5 separate regions of the Homo sapiens genome follow, and all the other regions are linked to region 4. Evidence: fine-mapped expression QTL. A gene starts in region 4. Each other region holds a variant in brackets. All regions are shown on one strand. Distances are from middle to middle.

Region 1 (5,101 bases), 120 kb before region 4:
ACCTCATCCTACCTGTGCACCAAGCTCACCACATACACACACACACACACACACACACACACACACACACACACACCACAGCAGATGCCAATTTTGTGCCTCGCTGCCTCACATAACTTGGGAGCATTGAGTAGTGAACAGCTGATCTCCATGAATTAACGTGGGAGGTCCTGTGGGCCCTGAAGCTTTCACACTCACAAACCGGTGTCGGGATGGGTTGTCATGGAGATCAGGTGGCGGGACACCAGGGCTCCCCCAAGGACTCCGGGCCTCCTCTAACGAGCAGGTCACATGGGGATCTGGGGGAGGCATAGGCACGAACTGCGTATTAAATACACCTGACTCACTGTGTCTGTGAGTGCGTGGGCATGTGTGGGTGTGGGAGAGTGCATGTAGGAGTGAGCATGTGTGTGAGCGTACATATAAGTGTGTCTATGTGTGTGTGTGCATATGAGTGTGTCTGTGAGTGTGTATCAGTGTGCATATATGTGTGGGCATTGTATGCATGCATGTGCATGAATGTATATGTGTGAGTGTATCTGTGTGTGAGCACGTGGATGCATGAGTATGTGGGGGCATGTGTATCTGTGTGTGCATATGTGTAAGGATGTTAGTTTGCATGCATATGTGTCCAGATCCCACATGGGATGAAAATTCAATGGCTCCGAAGATCTGCTGGACACATTTCAGATCCTAACAGAGCTCTTAAGCTCCAAGGGGTCATTGAATGGACAATGAGTGTTTGAGTCCAGGTGGCACGGACTCTAGGAAGGCAGCTCCTAGAGCTTCATAAATAACCCCTCACCCCCTTTCTCTCCCTCACAGTCACCCACCCCTACCCACGTCCCTTCCTCTCCCCATCTCTGTTTGCCTTGCAAGCCTCTCCCATTCCCGGTCTCATTTCTTGCATGTTCATCACTTCATCCTGCAGTTCAATTCCCCTCCAGCCCTCAGCATGGACTGTGGGATGAGAGAGCCACAGCCTTATCCCTGACGTAACCAAAACTCTTGGCACCAGCTTAGACCTGTTTCTCAGTCTTATAAACGGTCTCAAATCAGGGAAATGTAAGGTTCTGAGGAAAATGATCACTACTAGGTGATTCCCCTTTGTGTTACCGTAAGGCGGTGAGACAGAGATTCTCTAACGTTTTTAGTGCAACCCACCTAAAAACACATTGCAAACTGCCACCCACCACACACAAGCACATCCATTTATACAGATACGCAGCACGTTTACCCAAACGACACTCACCCTCGCTGCACACAACGCGCTCTGATGCCTCCTGACCTAGTCTATTCTGGTTCTATTGCAGATTTTCAATGCCGGGCTTGACACTCTAAATTGATTTCAAGACCCACTAATGCATCACAGCCTGTGATTTGATAAACCACGCTAAGACACATCCTGTTGTGAGGTGTTCGATCTAGAGGCCGTTTATCCTGCAGTGAGCGGGGGAGGGGGGGCAGGATTCACCCTGAGGCGCGCCTCCTCCTTCTCAGTCGGGCAGGGAGGAGGGGGCTCTGTGCCATGGGACCCACAGAGGTCCTGGTCTCAGGGTTCATGCCCTGTAGCTGCTGTGTGTCCAGCAGCTGGCAGGGCAGGAAGGTTGGGGGTGGGGGTGTCACTCCCACAGGCACACAGTAACCCGCAGAACCCTGGCCTAAAGCTGCTTAGCTCTGTGGCCTCTTGAGCCCACCTGGGAGCAGGCCCTGGAGGACAGCTGTTGGGGGCAGGGACTCCCAATGCACAGTACAGGCCATGAGCTGGGCAAGCTGCTCCTTCCCATAACGTCAGACCCTTCTTCTGACCCACCTAGGACCAGTTCCTGGGAGTTTGCAGGCAATCCTGGGCCCAGAGAAGCAGGCAGATGCGGCTGTTGATAGCACTACTGTGGGTTGTGAATATCATCCTGTGGTTATTACTTTACTTTCATTACCCGCCAGTACACTCGATCCTGCACGTGTCCCCTCACTTCACGCTCACGGGGTTTGCATGATGGGACGAGCGCTCCCAGTAGGTGATGAGGGTGATAAATGGCACCTGACATTCCTGGAGCACCTGTTGGCGCCCAGGGCGGGGCTTAGTGCTCCATTTGAGTCTGGAGTCTTTACTCTGCCATAGCAGCTGTGTGACCCCCGGTAAGTGGTTTAACCTTTCTGTGCCTCTTCTTTCTCAACTCTAAAGGTGGATAATAAAGTCCCTGCCCTCAGGCAATCAAAGATGTGTTAGAAGGGCTTGGCACATGGCAGGCAGACAGTATACATGGTTGGGATTAACCCCACTATACAGATGAGGAAACTGAGGCTCAGAGGCACTGGCCTGGCAGGCAGTGGGACCTGCACCCAGGCTCGTCTGACACTGAGCTCTTTGGCCTCCCTCCTTTACTGCTGCCTTCAGAAGAGACAGAGGAGAGGGCCACCCCCTCACACGCACACAGGGGCTGACCATCCAAGGTCGCCAATCACCTGGCTGCGAGCAGCCCTGCTCCCACGGGGACACTGACCGCTCCGAGTGCCCGGCATTCAGGCCTCGAGCCACCCACTCTGCACTGCACGGGGCCTCCTTGGAACGCGTCCCTCCCCAGAGGCTGTTTCTCTG[T/C]GGGATGGCGCTGCTCTGTGGGGAGGACCCCACCTCCCTCCTTCATGACGACCTGCCCTCACCTGGCTCGTCTCTTGGCAGACGCTGTCCCACACGTCTCTGTCATTTCCATGCCACCATGGTGACAGTCTTCCTGGCCACGGGTGTGACAGGGCCTTTTAGTTTCTGACTGACACAGTCACAGCCCGATTTCACCTGATTCCACTTACAAAGGCAGGTTTCCCTTCCCAGCCTCACATGGGGGTGGTCTCCGTGGAGTTCAAGAGGCTGTGGGCTGGGAGGAGGGGCAGCAAAGAACCCCAGCACACCCCAAGCAGGAGGGGGCAGCGTCCATCCGGCCATCTGGAGACAGCCAAGACCCTTGGCCACTGCAGATCCCCCCACTGAGCCTGGGCCTCCACCCCCACTTCACACTGGAACAGATGCTGGAGGGGCAAACCCCAAATACCCTCCCTAACCAGAAACCAAAATACTGAACTCCACCAGATCCCAGCCCAGCCTGGCCAGATAGTCTGACTTTCCAACGAAGTCGAAAATACAGATTTTTAGAATTAAAATGTAAATGCTGGCAACTAATTCAAATTCAATTGTGTGGTGGGTTTTTTTTGTTTTTTGTTTTTTGTTTTTGCATGGAGGGCTTTCTGGTGAAAACCAGACCCCACCTGGGAGCAGGCCCCGGGGGGACGGCTGTGGGAAAAGGGGACCCCTTCCCCACAAGTGCAAAGAACAGGCCACGAGCTGGCACAGATGCCTCTTCCCGAGCCCACCTGGGAGTGACAACCGGAAAACGTGCTAGACAAATTCTAAAAGAGCTGTAACACCTTACATTATTTTAAAAGTCCCCAGGTTGAGTTAATCCCAGACCCTTTACAGCTTTTTCCTTCTGATTGGTGAGGCCTCAGCTCAAATGTCACCTCCTCAGAGAGGCCCTCCCCCATGGCCCTATTTAAGTAGCTCCCACCAGAGTCTCAGTCAGCGACACGCACCCTTCATTTCCTTCTTGGCGCTGACCCCTACCTGCAAGTGCCTCGTCATTTGCGGTTGGCATCTGCACTGTCCGTCTCCACCAGCACTTAGGCTCCGTGAGGACAGACGCACGTCGCCTTGTGCCCTGGTGAATCCCAAATCCCTGCCCTGAGCGCAGTGCCTGGCACAGAATAGACACAGGCAATGAGTGCTGCTGAAAGTTCCCCATGGAGCCAGTGGTGATCTGTCCAGGCTCTACAGCCCTCCCGCTAAACGTGTTCAGAGACGGGGACGCTGGGGCCATCCTCCTTGCTCCACTCCTGGTGAAGAGCCCTCAGACCCATAAGATGGGCTTGTCCATATCACCTTCTCAGGTGAGCCTCATACATAAGCAGGTTCAGTGGGTTAACCAAGCCTACATCTTTAACCCACGTGATAACCACAGTACCAGGTTTCTGCCATCAAATCTTTTCTATCCTCAGTCCTGCCTTGGGAATTCAGACTCACCCAGAATTCAGAGTTTCACAGACTCAGAAGAGAATGTGATGCTAGATTGTTCTGAAATGTTTGGTTTTAAAGCAAGATCAAATGATTACATTTGTGATCTGAAATCATTTGATTGTATCAAGCCATATCCCCTTCCAAATTATTTTCTTTAAATTCTCCCCAGAACGGGGAGCAGTATTAATTGTTTCCAATGAAAAGACTGCCCCTTTCATCAAAGCCATGAGCTTTATCTGCTGTTTTTGAATATAACACTGGCTTAGTGAAAGTTGATTGTAAATAGCAGGACTTCTTTCTGTATTTTATCCTTCCAAATGTGCTAGTTGCAATAAAGAAGTGAAAAGTTTAAAAATCCTCTCTTGTAAATGTTTGGAAATTGCACTAGAGTTATTTCTTGCTCTTTGAGGGGAGAGGTCACCCTGCAAACATACAGTCACACCTGTTCGGCTCCCCCGGGTTTTGAATGTCACTAAACCCCCACTTCCCCCCTACCTTGGCAGGTCAGACTCTGTGAAGGATGCTCACTGTCTGTACGACCTCACACCAGGCACAGGGACTGGGGGAAAGAGACACATCTGGCTTGTGGGACATTCCTGCAAGGCCAATTTTCTGGTAGGGAGGTGACACCTGCAAAGGAATCTCTCATTTCTCCCAGCTCCAGCCAGTTTCAACAACAGGTGGGGTTTTCTTTCCTCTCAATTGTTATAGATTTCTTTTCTAATAATCAAAGTCATGACTCATTTTGAAAGTTTTTAAAAATAGAAGAAAAGATTTTAAATCACACGTGATACCAACACCAAAGATAAGCAGCATTCGCATTTTGCTATGTAGTGCTCCTGTTAGACATACACACACATATGATCACACTTACACACTTATGCATTTTTGCTTCATTAAAATAGAATAAAGCTTTATGGGCCAGGTGCAGTGGTTCATGCCTGTAAACACAGGCGGATCACTGAAGGTCAGGAGTTTGAGACCAGCTTGGACAACATGGTGAAACCCTAGCTCTACTAAAAATACAAAAAAATA
Region 2 (5,101 bases), 22 kb after region 4:
CCCTAATTTCCTTTCCAGATCCTGAGCCTTTGTCTTGAAACCTGATCTTTCCCTCCTCCCTCTGAATGACCCTTCTATTGTCTCCTGCCCTGTTCTTGAGAGCCGGCTTGGTTCTCTGCCTCCATTTGGAATTCCAAGAACAGGCAAGGAGAGCCACAAGATGGCCTGGGCTAGGTAGGGGAGACAGGGAGAAGCTGTGGCCCATAGGTTACAGGAGCTTCTGTCCTTTCTTTGACGGCCCCAAAGAGGAGGAGAGAAGGCTGGAGAAAGCCTGTAGCCAGGAAGAAAGGGAGACACAGGGGAGTGTAAAGTTTAACAGATGTGCGTGTGTCATCCCCTGTCTAGACAGCTTCTGGGCTTGTGAGGTTTGGGACCACACTTTCCCATCCCTCCAGGGGCCTCTCTCTGTTTCCTCTGCCTGCTCTTTGCCCAAACTGTTTCTCCTGCCTGAAGCATCCTGTCCTCCACCCTCCTCTTCACTGGCCATCCAAATCCTTTGGATTCTTCAGAACTTTGCTCCTGTTAGGCTGCTCAGTTTATGCTAAGTACTCCTCCAGGAAGCCCTCCCTGACTGCTCCCAGGCCAGCAGTTTCCCCTTTCCTCTTGCTGTTTATACAACACACTTAACCTCAGTCCCTTGTATCACTTGTTGCTTTCCAAGTCAGCATAAGTGTCAAAAGAGTAGGCTCTGGGGTCAGAATGTCTGTGTGCAAATAGCCATGCTGGCTTGCTTGTTTTGTCTGTCACTTGGAGGTGGCACATCCAAGTGAACCTCCCAGGGGACAGGGAAGAGTGGATTACTGTTGTAATCGGGCAGGATTCTCCTATCACTGAACACTGCCTCACATATAGCAGGCCCTTAATAAATATTTGTAAAGTAAATGAAGGAAGAGAGAAATGATCAGGCTCCCTGGACCACCTGAGGAGGCCCTCAGGTCTGTTGCTGGGCTCTGGCCCCAGCCCGTGGGACATATCTGCACACCCACAATTTCCTTTCTTCCCTCCTCTCATGAGTGTTTCCCGTCTGACCAATGCCGCCTTCTGCCTCTGGCCCCTTCTTCCTCTCCCACCACCTCAACTGCCTAATTATTACCAAACTTCTCTCTCCTGTTTTTTTTTTTTTGTTTTGTTTTGTTTTTTTTTAAGGCAGTGTCGCTCTGTCACCCAGGCTGGAGTACAGTGGCTCGATCTCGGCTCACTGCAGGCTCCACCTCTGAGTTCACGCTATTCTCCTGCCTCAGCCTCCCAAGTAGCTGGGACTACAGGCGCCCGCCACCACGCCCAGCTAATTTTTTTGTATTTTTTTTAGTAGAGACGGGGTTTCACCGTGTTACCCAGGATGGTCTCGATCTCCTGACCTCGTGATCCGCCCGCCTTGGCCTCCCAAAGTGCTGGGATTACAGACGTGAGCTGCCGCGCCCAGCCCTCTCTCCTCCTCTTGTTGGATTTGGAGGTGGAGAGAAGATGGGAAGGGAGGACCAAAGGGACAGTATTCAGCACCCATGCTGCACGACACTGGGCAGGTTCTGGAACCTGTCCGTGCCTTATCTTCCTTGTCTGTAAATGGAGCATCCCAACTCACAAGGTGGTTGTAAGGGTGGCGTGAGGTCACACACTAAAAGTGCTTAGAATTGTGCAGGGCCCCTGATGTTAGCTATCATTCATTATTGTTCTTCTAGGGTGTTTCCTGTGTTGGTCTGGGTGCTCCCTGTTGCAAATGACAGCCCTAATTCGGACTCTCTTAAGCAGCAAAGGGCACTTTTTTGAGTCTGTACCTGGCTACAAGATGCAACTTGGTCCACCCCATTGTCACCAGCATCCTCTCTCTCGGGCTCCATCCAATGGGCGGCCACCATCAGCACCATATTCATGCCTCCTGGCACCCAGCACAGTCTCCTCCAGCCTCCAGGACTCCCTCTCGCTTATTGGCCAGACTTGGGTCACATGTCTGCCCCAGGACCAATCGCTGAAGCTAGAGCTGGAATTGCTGATTGGCTCCACCTGGCTCACATGCGCTGCCCTGCAGTCAAACCATATATAAGGGGGGGTGGGAAATAAGAGCACTTGTGGCCTCAAAGCACTAACAGGGGCTGTTACCAGGAGACAGGAGATAATTCTTTGTTAAGCCAGTAAATATTTTGAATGCCTGCTATGCCGCAAGCATTGTTTTAATTGTTGAGGATATAGATCTGAACAAAAATGACAAAAACCTGTACCTTCAGGGGGCTGATATTCTGCTGGAGGACATCCGCAAAGAAATAAAGGAGCTAGCTGTGAGAGGTGGTAAGTGCTACTGGGGAGGGCAGAGATTTCGGTTTTAACCTGCCAAGGTGAAATTTGAGCAAAGACCTGAGGAGGGGGAAGAAGGGATGGTGAAGATAACCTGAATGAAGGCTCCAGGCAGAGGGAGCAGCAAGTTCAAGGGCCCTGGGGTGGGCTGTGCTAGCATGTGCAAGGAACAGTACAGAGACCGTGTGGCTGGAACCAGGTGTGCAAGGGAGAGAGGGGAAGGCAATAAGGTCGGAGAGGTGATGGAGCAGGTTGGGTGGGTTCTTGTAGCCCCTTTGGAGGGTTTTTGCGTTTTACTCTGCGTGGGATGGAAGTTATTGAAGGCCGTTCAGTGGAGGAAGGCAGGCCCTTGCTTTTGTTTTAACAGGATCTGTCTGGCTGCTTGATGGAAGGGACGAGGTAGAAGCAGGGAAACCAGTTAGGAGGCTGTTGGAATCCAGGCAGGATTCTCCTATCACTGAACACTGTGCCTCATAGGAGGTCCTTCATACGTATTTGTAAAGTGAAAGAAGGAAGAGAGAGAAATGATCAGGTTCTCTGGACCACCTGGGGAGGCCGCTAGGTCTGTTGCGGGGCTCTGGCCCCAGCCCGTGGGACGTATCTGCACACCCACAGTTTGCTTTCTTCCCGCCTTTCATGGACATTTACCATCTGACCAGTGCCTCCTTCTGCCTCTGGCCCCTTCTTCCTCTCCCACCACCTCAGCTGCCTGATTGTTCCCAAACTTCTCTCTCCTCCTCTTGTTGGATTTGGAGATCCTCAGAGGAAAACAGCCCATCTGGGTCTTTCTAAACAGGTCTGGATGAGGTCCCAGGTGTTTGTTCACCGCTGTGGTTTGTGGCATTGGGAAGGTGAGGGCATCAGTCACTC[A/TGA]GACCCGTTCCTCTTGGCAGATCGGCAGAGAAATTGAGAACTAAAAATGATGTTTCTAAATGCTCAGGACGTTAGCTGTTTCCAGAGATGTCTCCTGGGCTGGCGAGCCTTTGCCAAGGTCCTGGAGAAGACTCAGGATGGAGAGGAGGAGCCAGAGAGACCTGGAAAGGAACTGGTGGGAAGGAGAGGTGTTGTCCACAGCAGGGATGGAGTGGCAGGCGGCTGGTGCTGCGTGAGTTCACTGGGTGCTCTCTCGGTTCAGCCACTTTGAATATTTTACCAAGAAAAAGGAAAAAAAACAAGGCAGAATCCCTTGTGTCATCTTTAATTGATTTCTTCAGCATCCGGAGAGAAACTGGCATGAGGCCACGAGAAGTCTGAGCCAGGGGAATTCATCAGAAATCGACCCACTGATGACTTGATCTGATGAAATAATTAGCTCCTGTTATTCTCTGGCTTCTGGTGCCGGAGCTTTGACTTCCATCCAGAGGAGAGCGGGTGATAGCCGCCCAGGAGTGGGGGGTGCTCTGAAACCAACATGGGAGCCAGGAACGAAGTCCAGCTGACTGTGCCCCGGGCTCCATCTTTACCCAGCCCAGGGCTCCCAATGAAGACTGCCCTTCCCAGCCCCCCTGTACCCTGGCATCACAGGCCCAGGGCCAAAAAGGCCCTCAGAGGGCACCTGGCCACCTGGCAAATGAGGAAACTGAGGCTGGGAGACTCTTAGGAACTTGTTCAAAGATCTGCTTCTAGGGGGTCCTGGTTGAGCTGCCCAAATCGGGCCAGACTAGGTTTGAACCCCTTCTCTGCCACTTACCCATATGATCGGGGGAAAGTGATTTTAACTCTCTGTGCCTCAGCTTCTTCATCCATAAAATGGGTGAAATATTGATGGGTGGGTGTGCATATTAATTGGGTTGACACCTGCAAACAGCTCAGAGCAGAGACTGGAGTGTGCTGCAAGCTTTCAGAAAGGTTTTCCTGTGATTGGTTTCTGGTTTCAGAGAGTTGCTATTTGTAGGGCACCCCATCGGAATTCTCCCAATATTAGCACTCCACGTCTGTCTCTCTGAAGGAACGTGAATGTGCATCTTAGAACGCTGGCTGCTGCAATCGTAGTTTCAAGTGCAAAGCATCCCGTAGTGTTTCCCGATGGAGGGACATGGGCCACTGATAATGTATTAGTCTGTTTTCACGCTGCTGATAAAGACATACCCGAGACTGGGTAATTTAAAAGAAAAAGATTTAATGGACTCATTGTTCCATGTGGCTGGGGAGGCCTTACAATCATGGTGGAAGGTGAAAGGCACGTCTTATGTGATGGCAGACAAAAGAAGATGAGAACCAAGCAAAAGGGGAAACCCTTTATAAAACCGTCAGATCTCATGAGACTTATTCACTACCATGAGAACAGTATGGGGGAACCACCCCCATGATTCAATTATCTCCCACCAGGTCCCTCCCACAACACGTGGGAATTATGGGCGCTACAAGTCAAGATGAGATTTGGGTGAGGACACAGCCAAACCATATCAGATACACAACATAGTTTGAGGATTACTCTGATTTGGGGTGGTTCAGGGACTGATTCGATGGCTAGAGTTTGTCTCCTTTTCAGCTGTCTGGCAGCCTCCAGTTACCTCCAGCAGAAAGTCTCAGATGGTGCTAATGTGCTTTGACTCCTTTCAACACCTGCTAATCTCACTTCAAAAGAGAGTGCGAGCGCGAGGGCACGCGAAGCCTGGGAAGCTATTTGCATCAAGTTCCACTGATTCAGCTTTCTTTGACTTTTATTTGTACAATTAGCTCTACAGGGAAGCGATGTCCACTTTCCATTTATCTTTGGGTAGGAAGTTTTCTTTTCCCAAAACATGTGTTTGTGTTTTTATTTTAAAATGAGGCCATTTAAAGAAGCACGTTAAGCAAATAATCACTGAAGGGC
Region 3 (5,101 bases), 120 kb after region 4:
CTCCATCCGCTCAGTGGCCATCGAGGTGGACGGCAGGGTGTACCACGTAGGCCTGGGTGATGCCGCCCAGCCCCGAAACCTCACCAAGCGGCACTGGCCAGGGGCCCCTGAGGACCAAGATGACAAGGATGGTGGGGACTTCAGTGGCACTGGAGGCCTTCCCGACTACTCAGCCGCCAACCCCATTAAAGTGACACATCGGTGAGTGTCCAGGTGGAAGTCGAGGGTGAAGGGGACAGGACAGACCTCGGCAAAGGGCTTCCCACACCTCTTGGGCCCCTGAGGACCAAGATGACAAGGATGGTGGGGACTTCAGTGGCACTGGAGGCCTTCCCGACTATTCAGCCGCCAACCCCATTAAAGTGACACATCGGTGAGTGTCCAGGTGGAAGTCGAGGGTGAAGGGGACAGGACAGACCTCGGCAAGGGCTTCCCACACCTCTTGGGCACCTGGGCTGCTCCCCCTCCACCACCTCCGAGCCACACGTGATCCCTTCTCTCAAGCAGGTGCTACATCCTAGAGAACGACACAGTCCAGTGTGACCTGGACCTGTACAAGTCCCTGCAGGCCTGGAAAGACCACAAGCTGCACATCGACCACGAGGTGAGTGGAGAGCGGGAGAGGAGCATGCTCTCGGCCACCACGGGCCTGGCAGGACCCCCGGTTCACAGTGGGAGGGCAGTGAGGCCAGACCCAGGGAAGAGGCTGGAGAGGTGAAGTGAGGTCCCCACAGATTCCTCAACGCGGGGATAGGTGTCAGTCCCAGCATGAGACAGATAGCTTCCTGCCCAGGCCGTCTGAGGGACGATGGCTTAGCCACGTTGTCCCCCTTTTGACTTACAAGAAGTCTACGCTACAGGAGGCCTTTCATCAAACCCAGGGGAGACACTGGAGGCCTCAGTGGGCTCAGCGGGTTCCTGCGCAGGCCAGGCCGGAAAAATGACTCGGTTCCCTTGCAAGGGCTGGCTGGAGGAGAAGGCGGGCTTCCTTCAGGCAGAACAAGTACCTCCTCCCCACCCAGACATGCCGGTGCTTGCCCTGGGGCCCGGGGAGTGCAGGCTGCCGCTGCTGAGCACAGACACGGCAGCGTGGGGGCAGTCACCAGGCCAAGTCTTTGTTGTCCAGCCTTGAAGGTTTCAAGGCCTCCTCTTCTGCCCCTCCCTCAGATTGAAACCCTGCAGAACAAAATTAAGAACCTGAGGGAAGTCCGAGGTCACCTGAAGAAAAAGCGGCCAGAAGAATGTGACTGTCACAAAATCAGGTGAGGCAGTAGCAAAGGGACCTCCCTAAGACCCCACTCTCCTACAGGACAGTTCAGTTCATCCCCTCTCGTGATTGACCCCTTTCATTTTTTATTTTTATCTTTATCTTCTCCCCTCATGGCATTAAAAAAATCCGTAATTTACCTCCCTGTTGTCAGCCAGTGTGGCACACGGACCTGCTCCTCAGCCAGGCTGGCGCCCAGATTCCAGTACTGCTAGCAAGAGACCCGTGCTGGCTGCGCAGAGCCGGCTCCAGGCCGGAAAAGTGCCTCTGCCGATTGCCCTTTCAGAAATCCCCCATGTGGTTTGAGGTCCATGTTCCCGGCTTAGGGGTCCCCTGGCCCAAAGGACTGAACTCTAGAACAGCTCTAATAGAACATTCTGTGCTGACGGAAATGGGCTATATCTGCACTACACCACACGTGGCTGGTGCATACTTAAAATTTTGGCTAGTGTCACTAAGGAGCCAAATTTTTTATTTTGCTTAATTCAAATTGAAGTAGCCACCTGTGGCCAGTGGCTACCATACTGGACAGCACAGCTGTAGAAGCCCTGCTGTCTTTCCAGAAAGTGTTGCAAAACACAGGCTTCCCTGTGTTGACCCCGACCAAGTGTGAGTAGGCAGGGTGGTGAGGGAACCAACCTCAAGATGCTGAGGCTTTGACATGTAAAATTAACCATCAAAAAAGAAAGGAAAAAGGATGCTGAGGCTGATGCACCTAAAGCCAGGCCCAGCTTCTAGTCGTGGCTAAATTACAATTAACCCAACCTGCTAAAGTCTAGCAAAAGTCCAGGCAGAGTCCTGGCTCATGCTTGGAGAAAGAAGCCACTCAGGCAGGCACCTGCTGCCCTGAGGATAGGGTCATGCCCTACCCACCACCACCCCAGAAGGAGGGACAGGGGTGGGGCAGCAGCAACACATGGGAGTCCCAGAAATCACAGCTTGCACCTGCCAGCGGAGCCCTCTGAGCCACTCCTGAAGCCTGGGGCTGGGGGGGTCTGTTACAGCTACCACACCCAGCACAAAGGCCGCCTCAAGCACAGAGGCTCCAGTCTGCATCCTTTCAGGTAAGAGCAGCTTGAGGTCCTGGGGAAGAGATGCAGAGGCCTGCATGAGGAGGTGGCCCTCCCTTAAGCTAAAACTCAGAAGAAAAGGAAAGAAGTCCAGGCCCTTCCCTGGGAAGTCCACGGTAGCCCTCGAAGAGGCCTTACTTCCCAATCAACACTGAGCGGGCCTCCGACGCCCCCTTGTGGCTAAATGGGGTTACCGCAACTCCACCAAGCAGGGCAGGACACAGGAAGGAGGGGAAAGGGGTGTCAACAGGAGTCCCAGTAGCTGCCTGGTTCTGTCCCCAGCTTGTGCCCCCTTGGGAGTTAAAGTAGAATGACAAGACCCAGGTTCTGGTCCCGGCTCTGCCTTGGAGCAGCACTGGGACTTGGGACCCTGAATTGCTATGCCCATGGCTCTCTGTTGGAGAAGCCTCAGCGAAGCCCTTAGGTGGACAGGAAGAGCAGAGACATGGGGTCACTGATCCCTCAGAGGCCCAAGGTGTGTGTGGCCCTCTGCGCCCATAGGAAGGGCCTGCAAGAGAAGGACAAGGTGTGGCTGTTGCGGGAGCAGAAGCGCAAGAAGAAACTCCGCAAGCTGCTCAAGCGCCTGCAGAACAACGACACGTGCAGCATGCCAGGCCTCACGTGCTTCACCCACGACAACCAGCACTGGCAGACGGCGCCTTTCTGGACACGTGAGCAAGCCCAGGGCAGGGGTGGACAGGCTGAGGCCCAGGGGTTC[A/C]AGAAACTTCTCCACTTAGTGACCCAGACCTCTCTCAGAAAGGGGGTCCCCAACACCAGGGGTCCACGGTGCTCGGGACAGCCTCTTGGCATTTGACGAACTGGTTTTAGGGGCTGTCCCTGACAGGAATCACTGTTGGCAGATGGGGCCTCCTCCCGCAGGCACTCAGGACATGCTCTCTCTTCCTTGGCAGTGGGGCCTTTCTGTGCCTGCACCAGCGCCAACAATAACACGTACTGGTGCATGAGGACCATCAATGAGACTCACAATTTCCTCTTCTGTGAATTTGCAACTGGCTTCCTAGAGTACTTTGATCTCAACACAGACCCCTACCAGGTACAGGCAACCCGAGCTAGAGGGATGGGGGTGTGGGGTACACCAGTGCTGCCAGGTAGGCCCCCCCCAACCTCAGGGAAGTGATGACAAATTGTCCAAGTCCCACTGAGTCCCTGAGCCGGTGGGAGTAAGTTGTGAAGCTGCTGAGATTGGGGGTTCTGTGTTCAATCAGCCTTTTTTGCCTCCATCACCCTGCTTTTTGCCTCCATCACCCTGCGTGTGTAATATATATGGCTTCTTCCCTCTAACTTAACATGCAGCATGCAACCAGGTTTTGCCGGAACTTGTGAAGACTCCTAACACTGTCAGGCTGTAGGATCAAGCCAAATATCACCCACTGCAGGGCCTACACGGACCGCGCAGCTAATATAACAGTAACACACTGCACCAAGCACTCTGCTAAGTGCTTCCGTACAGTAAGCCATCTAAACACACATGCGACTGAAGTGGCCCAGGACCACACAAGACCAAAAGGAGCAGTGGCATGTCTGGTCATCGGAACATGTGGGCCCTTGTACAGGGACAGTCACTACTGAGCTCCAGCACTAGAGCTTTCCTGTACTGTGGCCTTGGTATTGCCCAGGCTTTGACCTTTCAAGAAAAGCCTGAAATAATTTAAATGAAATCTGATGTTTAAATGTCAGCAGCACAAATGCTTTAATTACTATATAGGTGTGCAGTCTTTCTCCTTAGATAGGTTCACCCTCATACTTTACCAAAGGGGTAGGTTAAGTCCCTCACCGGTAGCTCCCAGACTACACAAGAACCCAGGCCACTTACCCGTCCTTTCATCAAATGGCTGCTTTGCAATCAGGAGGAGCTGAGGGCCCCTGAATGAAGGCTGCTGATAAAACCAAGACTTGGAAGGCTTTCTTTCCAAGCTTGGGAAGTTTCCTGACCAGTGGCTGCAGAACTCCAACGTTAAATACACAGACGTGGTTTTTATTCTCCTGAGTTTTCACTCTCATGAAGAGTGAACCTGGTGGGACTTGAAGCCAAAAAGTCACCTAACTCTTCCAAACGCTGGCTCTTGCAGAAGTTGGAGTAAACAGGTCACCAGCCCCTAGCACCTTCCACCCGCCACCTGCCTGAAATATGTCCCCTGGTTGGTAGAAGGGCAGGGCGAGAGTCCCTGTACTTACCTTGTTGACAGACTACCTTTTTTGCAACCAGCTGATGAATGCAGTGAACACACTGGACAGGGATGTCCTCAACCAGCTACACGTACAGCTCATGGAGCTGAGGAGCTGCAAGGGTTACAAGCAGTGTAACCCCCGGACTCGAAACATGGACCTGGGTGAGTAGGCACCCCAACGTGGGGCCCTTGGACAGCAGGGTAACCAAAGGAAGGGACTCAGGAGGTGGTGTCTACCCCAAGAATGAGCCTGAAATCACCAGGCTTTGGGAGGTGATACAGTTCCAGACGAGTCATGGGAGCCCCTGTCCATAGCAGGCAGATGACCTTTAACAAGCTGTGATTCCTGAGAGAGGAACACCTGCACCAACTGCCCAGGAAACACACGGAATTCCGTCTCATTTCATTGTCCTCCCTTTTGTCCACTCATGCATTCAACAAACACTTCCTGAGAACTTACACCTGAAACCATGTTGACTAAAGATGACCCCATCCTCGCTGACTTGTGTGGAGCCAGTGTTGTCCTAAGAAGAGCAGTCCACAGCAGGAGGCCTCTTGCTTGTATGGAAAGGGTA
Region 4 (5,101 bases):
AAGAAGGGATTGTAAGCATCCCCTCTCTGACTGGGGTTACCTGACGAGCAGAGAAGGATGGAGTGAAACATTGTGGGCAGGATCCTTATGGGTATGGGAGAGCCATGTTCAGGAACTCGAGGACCTAAGGGCACAGTGTGGTAATGCAGTGGGGTTTTTTTTAGACTTTTTTTGCCGTGGAAATTTCCCCACCCCTGAAATATTCTCCAGAACCCAACATAAAAAGTAGGAGGGAGGCAGATCCCATTCCTGGGCCTCCCTCCACCACCCCAGGCCCCAGAAGCACCACCAAGGGGCCCTGAGGATTCAGTAAGAAAATTGCTTCTGCAGTGGGGTACATGTCCCCAAACCAGGGACAGCATCAAAAGGGTTGAAATCCCACTGGCCAAGTTTTTGACTATAGGCAAGACCCTTTATCTCTCTGAGCATCAGTTTGCTTGAAAGATTGTCAGGAGGATTACATGAAATGACCCGGTGGAAACAGCCATTGACCGCAGAACCTGCCAGAGTTGCACTGTCCAGCATGGGACCCCTGAGCCACATGTGGCTGGTCCCAATTGAGATGTGCTGTAAGTTTAGAATGTACACCAGATTACAAAACTTAGTAAGAAAAAATAATGTAAAAATATCTCATTAATTTTATATTGATTACATGTTGAAGAGATCGATTTTGGATATACTAGGTTAAGTAAACTATATTATTAATATTAAAATTAATTTCACCTGCTTTTTTCAGACAGGGTCTGACTGTCACCCAGGCTGGAGTACAGTGGAACAATCATGGCTCACTGCAGCCTTCACCTCCCAGGCTCAAAGTGATCCTCCCACATGAGCCTCCCGAGTAGCTGGGACCACAGGCACATGCCACTATGCCCAGCCTAATTTTTGTATTTCTTGTAAAGATGGAGTTTCACCATGTTGCCCATGCTGGTCTGGAACTCCTGAACTCAAGTGATCCGCCCACCTCGGCCTTCCATACTGCTGGGATTACAGGCGTGAGCCACTGTGCCCGGCCCTCACCTGTTTCTTTTTACTTTCTAATGCCACTACTAGAAAATTCTAAATGATATATATGTCCTTCTGCAGAGATGAGGCGGAAGGAGAGGGGTCTCCATTATTTTTCGGTCTATGATGGTGAAGCCTGACATTCTGTCCCAGGGCAAAGAAGGTGGGAGCTGTTCAGCCTTATCAGTGATGCCAAAGGTAGGGCCAGCACCTGACTTGGAAAAGCAAGTGCAAGGTTTTTCTGATTTATTTAGGCTCTAACTTGATTGGCGTGGCTAACAGAGGTTATGGGGAGGAGCCTAGAGCTCCAAACCCAGTCAGGAGATCCGATTTGAATTTCAGATTTAAAAATGAATGATTTTTTAGTACTAACTTCCTCCCCGTGGATGTCTATATTTATTTGTTAAGTCTGACAACTCTACCATGGAGGATCATATCAGAGAAAGGAGATGCTAGGTTGAAAAGTAAAAACATCCTAGGATTTAAGAGCATGAGCCGGGAGCTAAGGCTTCTTGGCTTCACAGGATCCACCACTTATAACTGTGTGATCTTCGGACAGTTACTAAACCTCTCTTGGTTTCCATGGTAAAACGGGCATAGTAACTTACTGTGTGAGATTGTCACAAGATTTAATAAGTTACTGCTGTTTACAAGTGCTTTCCCACAGCGGCGTCTGTTTCCCCTTAGCTAGCAACTCGGCTGTGTTTTCTGCAGCTGCTGGTGAGTTCTCTGCCCGCTCTTTGCCCACCCGCGTCAGGCCGGTCCCCCTCCGGCCTCTTCTGTGGCGCGAGGGACAGCGGAAACCACGGTAGACAGCACCCCCTTGAGTCCAATTCCTCCCCTTTCGGAGGAAGCCGGTTTCTCCTTTCTATGCTACTCCCGGGCCATTTCTGGACAACAGCTGCTATTTTCACTTGAGCCGAAGTTAATTTCTCGGGGAGTTCTCGGGCGCGCACAGGCAGCTCGGTTTGCCCTGCGATTGAGCTGCGGGTCGCGGCCGGCGCCGGCCTCTCCAATGGCAAATGTGTGTGGCTGGAGGCGAGCGCGAGGCTTTCGGCAAAGGCAGTCGAGTGTTTGCAGACCGGGGCGAGTCCTGTGAAAGCAGATAAAAGAAAACATTTATTAACGTGTCATTACGAGGGGAGCGCCCGGCCGGGGCTGTCGCACTCCCCGCGGAACATTTGGCTCCCTCCAGCTCCGAGAGAGGAGAAGAAGAAAGCGGAAAAGAGGCAGATTCACGTCGTTTCCAGCCAAGTGGACCTGATCGATGGCCCTCCTGAATTTATCACGATATTTGATTTATTAGCGATGCCCCCTGGTTTGTGTGTTACGCACACACACGTGCACACAAGGCTCTGGCTCGCTTCCCTCCCTCGTTTCCAGCTCCTGGGCGAATCCCACATCTGTTTCAACTCTCCGCCGAGGGCGAGCAGGAGCGAGAGTGTGTCGAGTGAGTGTGCGTCTGTGTGTCCCGGCGAGGGTGCGCGCTCGGCGCCGGGAGCGCGGCCAGCCGAGTCCGGAGGCATCGGGAGGTCGAGAGCCGCCGGGACCCCAGCTCTGCGTTCACTGCCCCGTCCGGAGCTGGACTTCGGGGCCGGGGCCGGGGCCGTGCGCCGGGGACAGGCAGGGCCGGGTCGCGGGCCGCGCGTCCCCCAGGCCGGAGGTAAAAGCGCTAGCGCGCGGAGGGCTCGAGGAGGGCACCGCGGCTGGGCCCCCCGCGCCCCGGGCCCCAGCCGTCCGCGGCTCCCGGCCCGACGCTCCCCGCCCCGGAGCGCGCCCGCCTCCCCTGCGTGGAGGCCGGCGGGCAGGCGAGCGGGGGGCGGTAGCGCCGTGCCAAGGGGCTGGCTGGGGCAGCGTGGCCGGCCGGGCTGGGGCGATTTAAGAGCGGTCCGGGCGGGGTGCGGAGCCGGACTTTGGCTGGGGCGGCGCGCGGGGAGGGGGCCGGGGGCGGTGGCGGCGGCGTTGGGGGGCGGGGAGGAGGCAGGAGGAGGAGCAGCAGCGCTCGCCGGGGGATGCAGCAGCGGCAGCGGCGGCGGCGGCGGCGGCAGCGGCAGCGGCGGCGCGGAGTCCCCTGCGCCCAGCGGCCCGGCCGGGCTGCGGCAGAGGCGGCGGCGGCGCCCCGCTCCGGGTGAGGTTGCCGGGGCCGTGCGCGCTGGTGAGTGGGGCGTGGGGGGCAGGTGGGTGGCTGGGGGACGCGGGGCTCGGGCGGGGGCTCGCGGCGGCCGGAGCCTTCCCCGGCGTGAGCCCGGCCGCGAGCGCCGCCCAGGTGAGCCGGGGCTGGTCCGGACCGCCCGGCTCCAGCCCCAGCGCTGCTTGCGGAGGTGGGTCCGGGCGGGCGGGAGGGAGGCTCCGGCGCCGGCCGTCCGCAGAGGGATGACCTGTTTGACCCCGCTGGCTGGCGGGCGGGCGAGGACTTCCCGCCGCGCCCCTGACCCGCGGACACGGCACACCGAGCACAGGCGGCCCCGGGTAGGGGAGCGCGCCTGGGCCGGCCATCCGCAGGGGCATGGCCTTGTTGACCCTTAGGGTTTAGACCCAAGGGACCGGTAGATGCCAGCCCACGTGGGGCTTGTCCGGGCAGGACTCGGGGAAGCAGTGGGCCGGATCTTCAGAGTGGTTGGAAACTCGCAGACACCGAAAGGACAAACAGGATCGAAAAGGCAGACTTCCTCCCAGGCCAGGGCAGAACGAGTTTCCATCGCCTGGCGGAGGGATGCTCCCCTCCCCGGCTCCTCGGGGTTTCAGAAGTCTAGCGGTGAATTCTAGGAGTGCACTTTTCCAAACATTCCTTATAGTAGTTCGTTCATTCGTTCTACAAGCATTTCTGGAGCACCCCCTCGTGCCGGGCACCGCGTTCTGTTCCAGGGAAACGCGGCTGAACAGGATCTGGCTCCTGCGCGCCAGAAGCTGCCGGTTCACTGGGAGGGCAGCAGGGTAGAGAGATGCCGTCTCGGGGTGGAAGATGGAAAGGGAAGCCTGCAATCCTAGTTTGCACACTGGCCTCGGTCCGCAACTCCCCCACCTGCACGCAGTAGGCCCAGCACACAGTAGGAAGAGCAAGCCAGACCTGCCTGTGACGACCCTCTCCTCCTCCTCCTCCCCCTTGAAAGCTTTGATTCATTCCCTGCCCCCCTTTCTGGAAAGTCTTCCTGCAGCTTGTTTTAATCACTTTTTGAGTTAAAAGTCAATATTTAATTAACCAAGTAATTACATTCAGCTTACGTTTCAATCTGGGTATTTGCTCATCTGTGCGTGTTGGGACACCCGCCCTCTCGCCCCTCCATCTGTCCCCTGCCTGTTTCCCACCGGGTCCACCCCCACTTTTGGGGCAGAGAAGGGGAGGCTGCGCTGGAGCAGGTTCTCAGGGGGAGACAGGGAGCAGGAGAGACGGGCTTTCTCTGGAGGACACCCCCGGATCTGCGCGCTCTCCAAATTTCAGCTTGTAGTGAATAGTGAAGGTGATTTCTTGACAGCCTCTGCCTCCCATTACAGAACCACCAGAGGGTTCTAATTAAATTAGAGCCAATCGTTAAGTATAGGAACGGGGTAGGGAGGACAGAACGAAGGGGGCCCCTTCCCTGTAAGAGATGTTCTCCCCAGCTTCGTCTCTCCCACATCATAGAGAAGAGAAAACTCATCCAGACAGCCTGTCGGATGTGTAATTTAGCGTTCTAATAAGCAGCTTGAAAGGCGAAGGTGGTGGGCTTGGCAGATGGCATGTTGGACCTTTGTACATGAAGGCCTCTTCCTTCCCCAGCTAAATTTATATACATAAAGGCCGTGATGTTGGCATCACTGCTGCAGCTGAGGGTCAATGTGGGTTTGGGGTTTGGGCTTTGTGTGTACTTCTTGGGTTTTTTATTTGAATTTATGGCTTTTTCTGAAACCCTAATAACATGTTAAATTTTCAAACTTGAGAGTAGAGTGATGAGTTGACTGTAAAAGTCTGGTCTTGGAGGAGGACAGCATAGCAGTGTGTGTGCATGCACGTGCATGTCCCCCAGTTCAGCTGCTGTCCAAAGAACCCAGTTGATATGCAGTTTCACACCTGATTTGGACCTGATTTGGGAGATAACATTTCCTTCTCACTTTTTCT
Region 5 (5,101 bases), 50 kb after region 4:
ATGAGATTTGGGTGGGGACACAGCCAAACCATATCACCCTCTTTCCAAATATGGTCACATTCACAGCTTCCAGAAATTAGGACATGGTCTTATCTTTAGGGGACGGGGGCACCGTTCAACCCACTGCACACCTTAAGAACTGCAAGGAAAAGGGGAAAAACCAAGGATGGCCATAGAAGAAGGAGAGAGGGTTTCCATGGAATATTTCCATCAAATCACTAAGGGTCTGGGTACCAACCACAGCATACAATTGAGCATGCACTCGTCACACCTATGTTGAGTACCCACTGTGTGTCACACACGGCAGCAGTGCTGAGGATTCAGCGCTGAGCGGAGCACACAGCCTTTGCCCTCCTGGGACCTTGGCCTGCACGCAGTAGGGCTCCCACACACGTTCATTTGCTTCCTTCCTTCCTTCTTGCCTTTCTTCCTAAGTGTCTTGCTCTGCTTACAGCTTGGTTGAGAAACAAGAGCAGGCATGGCCAGGCAAGGTGGTTCATGACTGTAATGACAGCACTTTGGGAGGCAGAGGCAGGCGGATCACTTGAGGTCAGAAATTCCAGACCAGCCTGGCCAACATGGCGAAACGTCATCTCTACTAAAAATACAGAAACTAGCTGCGTATAGGGGCTACTTGGGAGGCTGAGGCAGGGGAATCGCTTGAACCCGGGAAGCAGAGATTGCAGTGAGTCAAGATCACACCACTGCACTCCAGCCTGGGCAACAGAGCAAGACTCTGTCTCAAAAAAAAAAAAAAAAAAAAAAAAACAAAGAAAAGAAAGAAACAAGAGCAGGCATGACCGAAACCTCGAAGCCTGGGGTATGATCAGTACTCAGGACACATGCTGCAAGACTGCTCAGAGCTCTCAAGCCCAGGGTGGTGCCAGAGGCTCCCTACGAGAGGGTACTAGGCCGATGGGTTGGATTTGGGGTGAGGGGTGGTGGGTTCCAGGCTCGAAGAAAAGTGTGGACAAGAGGCCAGCAGGGTTTGTGGCTGATGGCAGAGCACCTCAGCCAGGGAATACTCAGGGAGAAGGTTTGCCACCAGGTTGGCATGACCAGATTTCAGTAAGAGCAAACAATTATTGGGAAAGTTCCAAAGAAAAGAAAGTATAATCTTCCCTCAATTTACATGGTGGTTGGTTTCCAAAAGAAAAAACAAAACAATGTATATTAATACCCTGCAAAAACAATGTTGTGTTTAAAATTTGTAAAACAGTTTGATTCCAGTCTCAGGTCATTTATAAACAGGTTTTTACCTGCCTTGCAGGTAGAGATGCAATTACAGTACCGGACAGTGACAGTACAGTCACTTACAGTCACTCACCTCCAGCACCATTGCAAAATCCTCCAGACTCCAGACCTGGACCTCAGGAGTGTCCAGGTGGACTCGGGACCCAGGGTCCTTCCTGATTATGCAGGACAGTCCCACCGTGCAGCAGTGGCCCCTGCCCCGTCTGCCCCGTAGGTCTGCAGAATGTGCCCACTCCAGACCTAGGGATGCCACGTGCTGAGAGCCCCCTGGTGCCGGTGCCGCCCGGGTCTCCTGCCCTGCGCCTTACTTCCACCCTTGACTTGCAGGTTCCATGCAGGTGATGAACAAGACCCGGCGCATCATGGAGCAGGGCGGGGCGCACTTCATCAACGCCTTCGTGACCACACCCATGTGCTGCCCCTCACGCTCCTCCATCCTCACTGGCAAGTACGTCCACAACCACAACACCTACACCAACAATGAGAACTGCTCCTCGCCCTCCTGGCAGGCACAGCACGAGAGCCGCACCTTTGCCGTGTACCTCAATAGCACTGGCTACCGGACAGGTGAGCAGGGACGGGGGCAGGTGCAGGAAGGGAGTGACAGCCAGGGCGGGCGTCCCTAGGTGTGGTCTGCACACCACTGCGGTACCCAAGTTGATTCTGGATAGCCCCTAGAGCAACTCTCTTATAATTTCAGAGTTGTGCATTTATTTCTGTGTGTATTAAAGAAATACAGATTTATTTGCCTACAGTAGTGATGTAAAGTGACCTTGTCAAAGGAATTTGAGTCCCCCAAAAAAGTGAGTCTTTTCAAACTATGAATCATAGTGTGGAGAGGCCATAAGGTGCCCATGCATGAGTTTGCATCCTCTGTTAATAGTTATTAAGCCCATCAGGGACTGTTTCGTTGACTTCAAACCATTAGCTTGGAAGAAGGTTCCAAAACATAGGGGTGGGGGATGGGAATTCATGGAGGGGAACAGATAATGGGGCTGTGTGGTCGCTTTCTACGTGGCAGTAACCAAGGTGGTGCAGAAACTGACATGGTGGTTGACTGTCCACACTCACCCGTGTCATCCTGGGTGGAGGGCGACCCAGTTCCTGTTTGCTTATCCTTCAGGAGGTCTTTGGTGGGCTCTGAAGGCTCACCTGCCAGGCTGGTTGTCTGAGGTAGAGATGCAATTACAGTATAGTCACTTACCTGTAGCGCCATTGCAAAACCCTCCAGACTCAATTCATTTAACTTGCTTTAATTAAAAATAAATAAATACTCCCCGCCTTGGGTAAGAAGCCGCGGCGGTTGTGAAATCAAGATATTGTGGCTCAGATGTTGCAACCCCAGGAAGTTGCATCCAAGTGACAAGGGGTTTGTTTGGGTG[G/C]GAGTGCCGCAAGGGAAGGATGGACTCCTCCTCCAGCCCTGTCCGCAGTGCTGGACCTGCAGCCCTCGAGGCTGGGCAGCTTCCTCTCAGATACACAGTGTGGGCTGGCAGGGATGCTTTGGTGTGGGGAGCAAGCCAGTAAGGTGTGTCTTCTTACAGCCTCATCCCATAGCCAGAATCACCTAGAAAGTATGTTCTGCTGAGAACTAGGAAGGCCTCGTTCCTATACCTTGTTCCTGTGTATTGTGCGTGCCATTATGCAGAATCAACCACCTGTTGGTTCCCCTGAGCCTCTGCAGAAAGCCACATGTGTCAGAAGTTACCATGGCCACCACCCTAGATGATTGGCGGGGGCCTGGATGTTGCTAGCAGAAGCAGGACAGGCAGGCCCGCAGCACAGCAGTGGGCCCTTATTGAAGATGCACCTGCAACTTGGCTCTAGAAAGTACAGCCATGCACTCAAGAGTGACCAGCCTTGAAATGTTTTAAAGTCTGAATATTTCACTGAAAATCTTATTTTAAAATATGCCGGCACAGCTTATTTTTTCTTTAATGTATACTGGGGGCCAAAGAAAATATGTCTGAGGAGTGAGTGTGTGGCTCACAGACTCTCTTTTCACAACCTCTGGGTGAAAGGTCTGTACAGAAACCTTTCGTTTTGGATGCTGGAAGATCAGTAAAGACCCTAGACCTGTTCTCATCAATCCCCCTCATTTCACAGCCAGGGCCACTGCAGCCCAAAAAAGAGACCTGCCCAGAGTCAAAGTGAGGTGTTTGTGGCATAATCAAAATGGAATGCAAGATCATGGGAATTCAGAGGGGGCATGGAAATAGTATTCATCAGACTGAAAGGAAACTCATATATTCTGTGCCATTTTGAGGGCTCAGGGTGGGAGCTAAAGGCTAGTGTTTCAAAATCTTACAGGCGACATGAGAAAATCAATCATTTCAAGAATAAACATTCTCTAAAGTGGATTTCCCAAACTTGTCCTTGAATGTATGCAAATCACCAAAAAGCTGTCTCCCTAAATAAGTGCTTTTATTCAACTATGATTCATTATTATACCCTCATGAAGACTGGGAGCGTAATGTCAAGTGTAAAGAGCCAGATACCGAGAACATTTACGTTTTTGTAAAACTGCCACTGAGAATTTTATTCATTATATTTAGAATGCCACTCTGTACAAAGAATCCCATTCCAGCCTTACTTTCAGAACTCAGGACCCTGAAAACACCTGTTTAGTCTGATGAACTGGTGTACTCCTTGTTATTACATAATAAGAGCCACATACCCTGTATAGTTTCCCTCTTTGCCCTGGCAGCTAGGAAGCTCAGGTTTGAGTTTTATATTGAGTTGTTGTTTAAAGTGGAAATGTTTTTAAAGATCCAACTGCGTGATATGTTATACTGATCAGTGTTGACTAAGAAAAATGACAAAAATCTATAATGAATTCAAAACCTTTTAGATTATTTTTTCCTTTTAGATTGATTTGTACATACATATTAGAATATACTGTAAATTTTTAATCCCCCAAGGACCAAAAGTAAATTGTTCCTGCTGAGTCTTCAGCCATGTTAAACCCTGTGTTCACGTGGCCACCTAGCAAAGTTGGTTCAGTTGGATTTAAGTTTGGCTGTGTGTGTGAGAGAGACCGGGGATGTCAAATAAAATTCCAAGTTGTTCTGGTGGCCCTGCTCTATGAAGTGGTCAGAGACTCCGACTCCATTTCTCCTTATTTCCCATTGGTGAGAAACAAGTCATATGGCCATGCATGGCAGCAAAGGGGCCTGGGAAATGTAGTCTTATTCTAGGTGGACATTTGCCCAGATGAAAGTTATTTTACTGTGGGAGAAGAAGAAAACGGATACTGAAGGACAAGTGAAGTCTAGGCCACCCTAACAGTTATTAGCCATTTGTGTTTGTGATACTCGTTTGAATAGAGGAGATCAGCCCAAACTGAGGAAGACTGACCCCAGAAAAATGCTACTTAAGTGGACCAACATTTCATAATAAATAGTGCTTTTAATGTATTTAGTAAGGTATTTGATCTTGAAATGAAACTACAATGTTTCGAGAATAACTCTGTTATGTTACATCTCTTTTTTTCTTTTTCTGAGACAGAGTCTTGCTCTGTCACCCAGACTGGAGTGCAGTGGCACAGTCTCAGCTCACTACAACCTCTGCCTCCTGGGTTCAAGCGATTCTCCTGTCTCAGCCTCCTGAATAGCTGAGATTACAGACGCCTGCCACTACGCCTGACTAATTTTTGTATTTTTTGTAGAGATGGGGTTTTGCCATGTTGGCCAAGCTGGTCTCAAACTCCTGGCCTCAAGTGATCCACCTGCCTTGGCCTTCCAAAGTGCTGGGATTACATGCATGAGCCAACGCACCCGGCCCTCTGTTAGGTTGCATCTAATGATATTTAACAAATATTGGGCTCTAGTTGCAACTAATGAGTTGATTC

Which allele goes with the higher level. Positions count from the first base shown, and alleles are read on the strand shown. Sizes are in standard deviations (SD) of each study's normalised expression. Not every link is listed here.
As copies of C replace T in region 1, the expression in unexposed skin of the gene that starts at base 3,022 in region 4 goes up (moderate effect, 0.41 SD a copy in GTEx).

The links. PIP is the estimated chance that this variant, and not a neighbour inherited with it, causes the effect.
Region 1: its variant is fine-mapped to the expression of SULF2 in unexposed skin (GTEx, PIP above 0.99). The same link has a PIP of 0.9 or more in skin.
Region 2: its variant is fine-mapped to the expression of SULF2 in whole blood (INTERVAL, PIP above 0.99).
Region 3: its variant is fine-mapped to the expression of SULF2 in whole blood (Lepik 2017, PIP 0.93).
Region 5: its variant is fine-mapped to the expression of SULF2 in whole blood (TOPMed, PIP above 0.99).

What each region holds. Positions count from the first base shown.
Region 1 is chr20:47,902,669-47,907,769 of GRCh38, reverse strand. It overlaps the pseudogene RNU7-92P. Among named protein-coding and RNA genes, the nearest start is that of LINC01523, 78 kb to the left of the region's middle. The variant T/C (reference allele first, on the strand shown) is at 2,600.
Region 2 is chr20:47,761,394-47,766,494 of GRCh38, reverse strand. All of the region lies in intron 1 of SULF2 (sulfatase 2), which reads left to right. Among named protein-coding and RNA genes, the nearest start is that of SULF2, 22 kb to the left of the region's middle. RefSeq lists a silencer at 1-190 and enhancers at 63-835, 4,556-5,094. The variant A/TGA (reference allele first, on the strand shown) is at 3,160.
Region 3 is chr20:47,661,360-47,666,460 of GRCh38, reverse strand. It overlaps SULF2 (sulfatase 2), which reads left to right. Exons shown (of 21, transcript NM_001387048.1): 12 at 1-201; 13 at 508-604; 14 at 1,168-1,262; 15 at 2,272-2,331; 16 at 2,839-3,008; 17 at 3,249-3,391; 18 at 4,565-4,688. Among named protein-coding and RNA genes, the nearest start is that of SULF2, 120 kb to the left of the region's middle. RefSeq lists enhancers at 1-656, 657-1,642, 2,176-2,225, 2,256-2,395, 3,206-3,255. The variant A/C (reference allele first, on the strand shown) is at 3,056.
Region 4 is chr20:47,783,402-47,788,502 of GRCh38, reverse strand. It overlaps SULF2 (sulfatase 2), which reads left to right and starts at 3,022. Exons shown (of 21, transcript NM_001387048.1): 1 at 3,022-3,160. It overlaps LOC124904920 (a long non-coding RNA gene), which reads right to left and starts at 2,749. Exons shown (of 2, transcript XR_007067618.1): 1 at 2,341-2,749; 2 at 1,618-2,098. It overlaps LOC124904921 (a long non-coding RNA gene), which reads left to right. Exons shown (of 3, transcript XR_007067619.1): 3 at 1,087-1,163. RefSeq lists an enhancer at 1,735-1,904.
Region 5 is chr20:47,733,423-47,738,523 of GRCh38, reverse strand. SULF2 (sulfatase 2) reads left to right here. Exons shown (of 21, transcript NM_001387048.1): 3 at 1,582-1,821. Among named protein-coding and RNA genes, the nearest start is that of SULF2, 50 kb to the left of the region's middle. The variant G/C (reference allele first, on the strand shown) is at 2,637.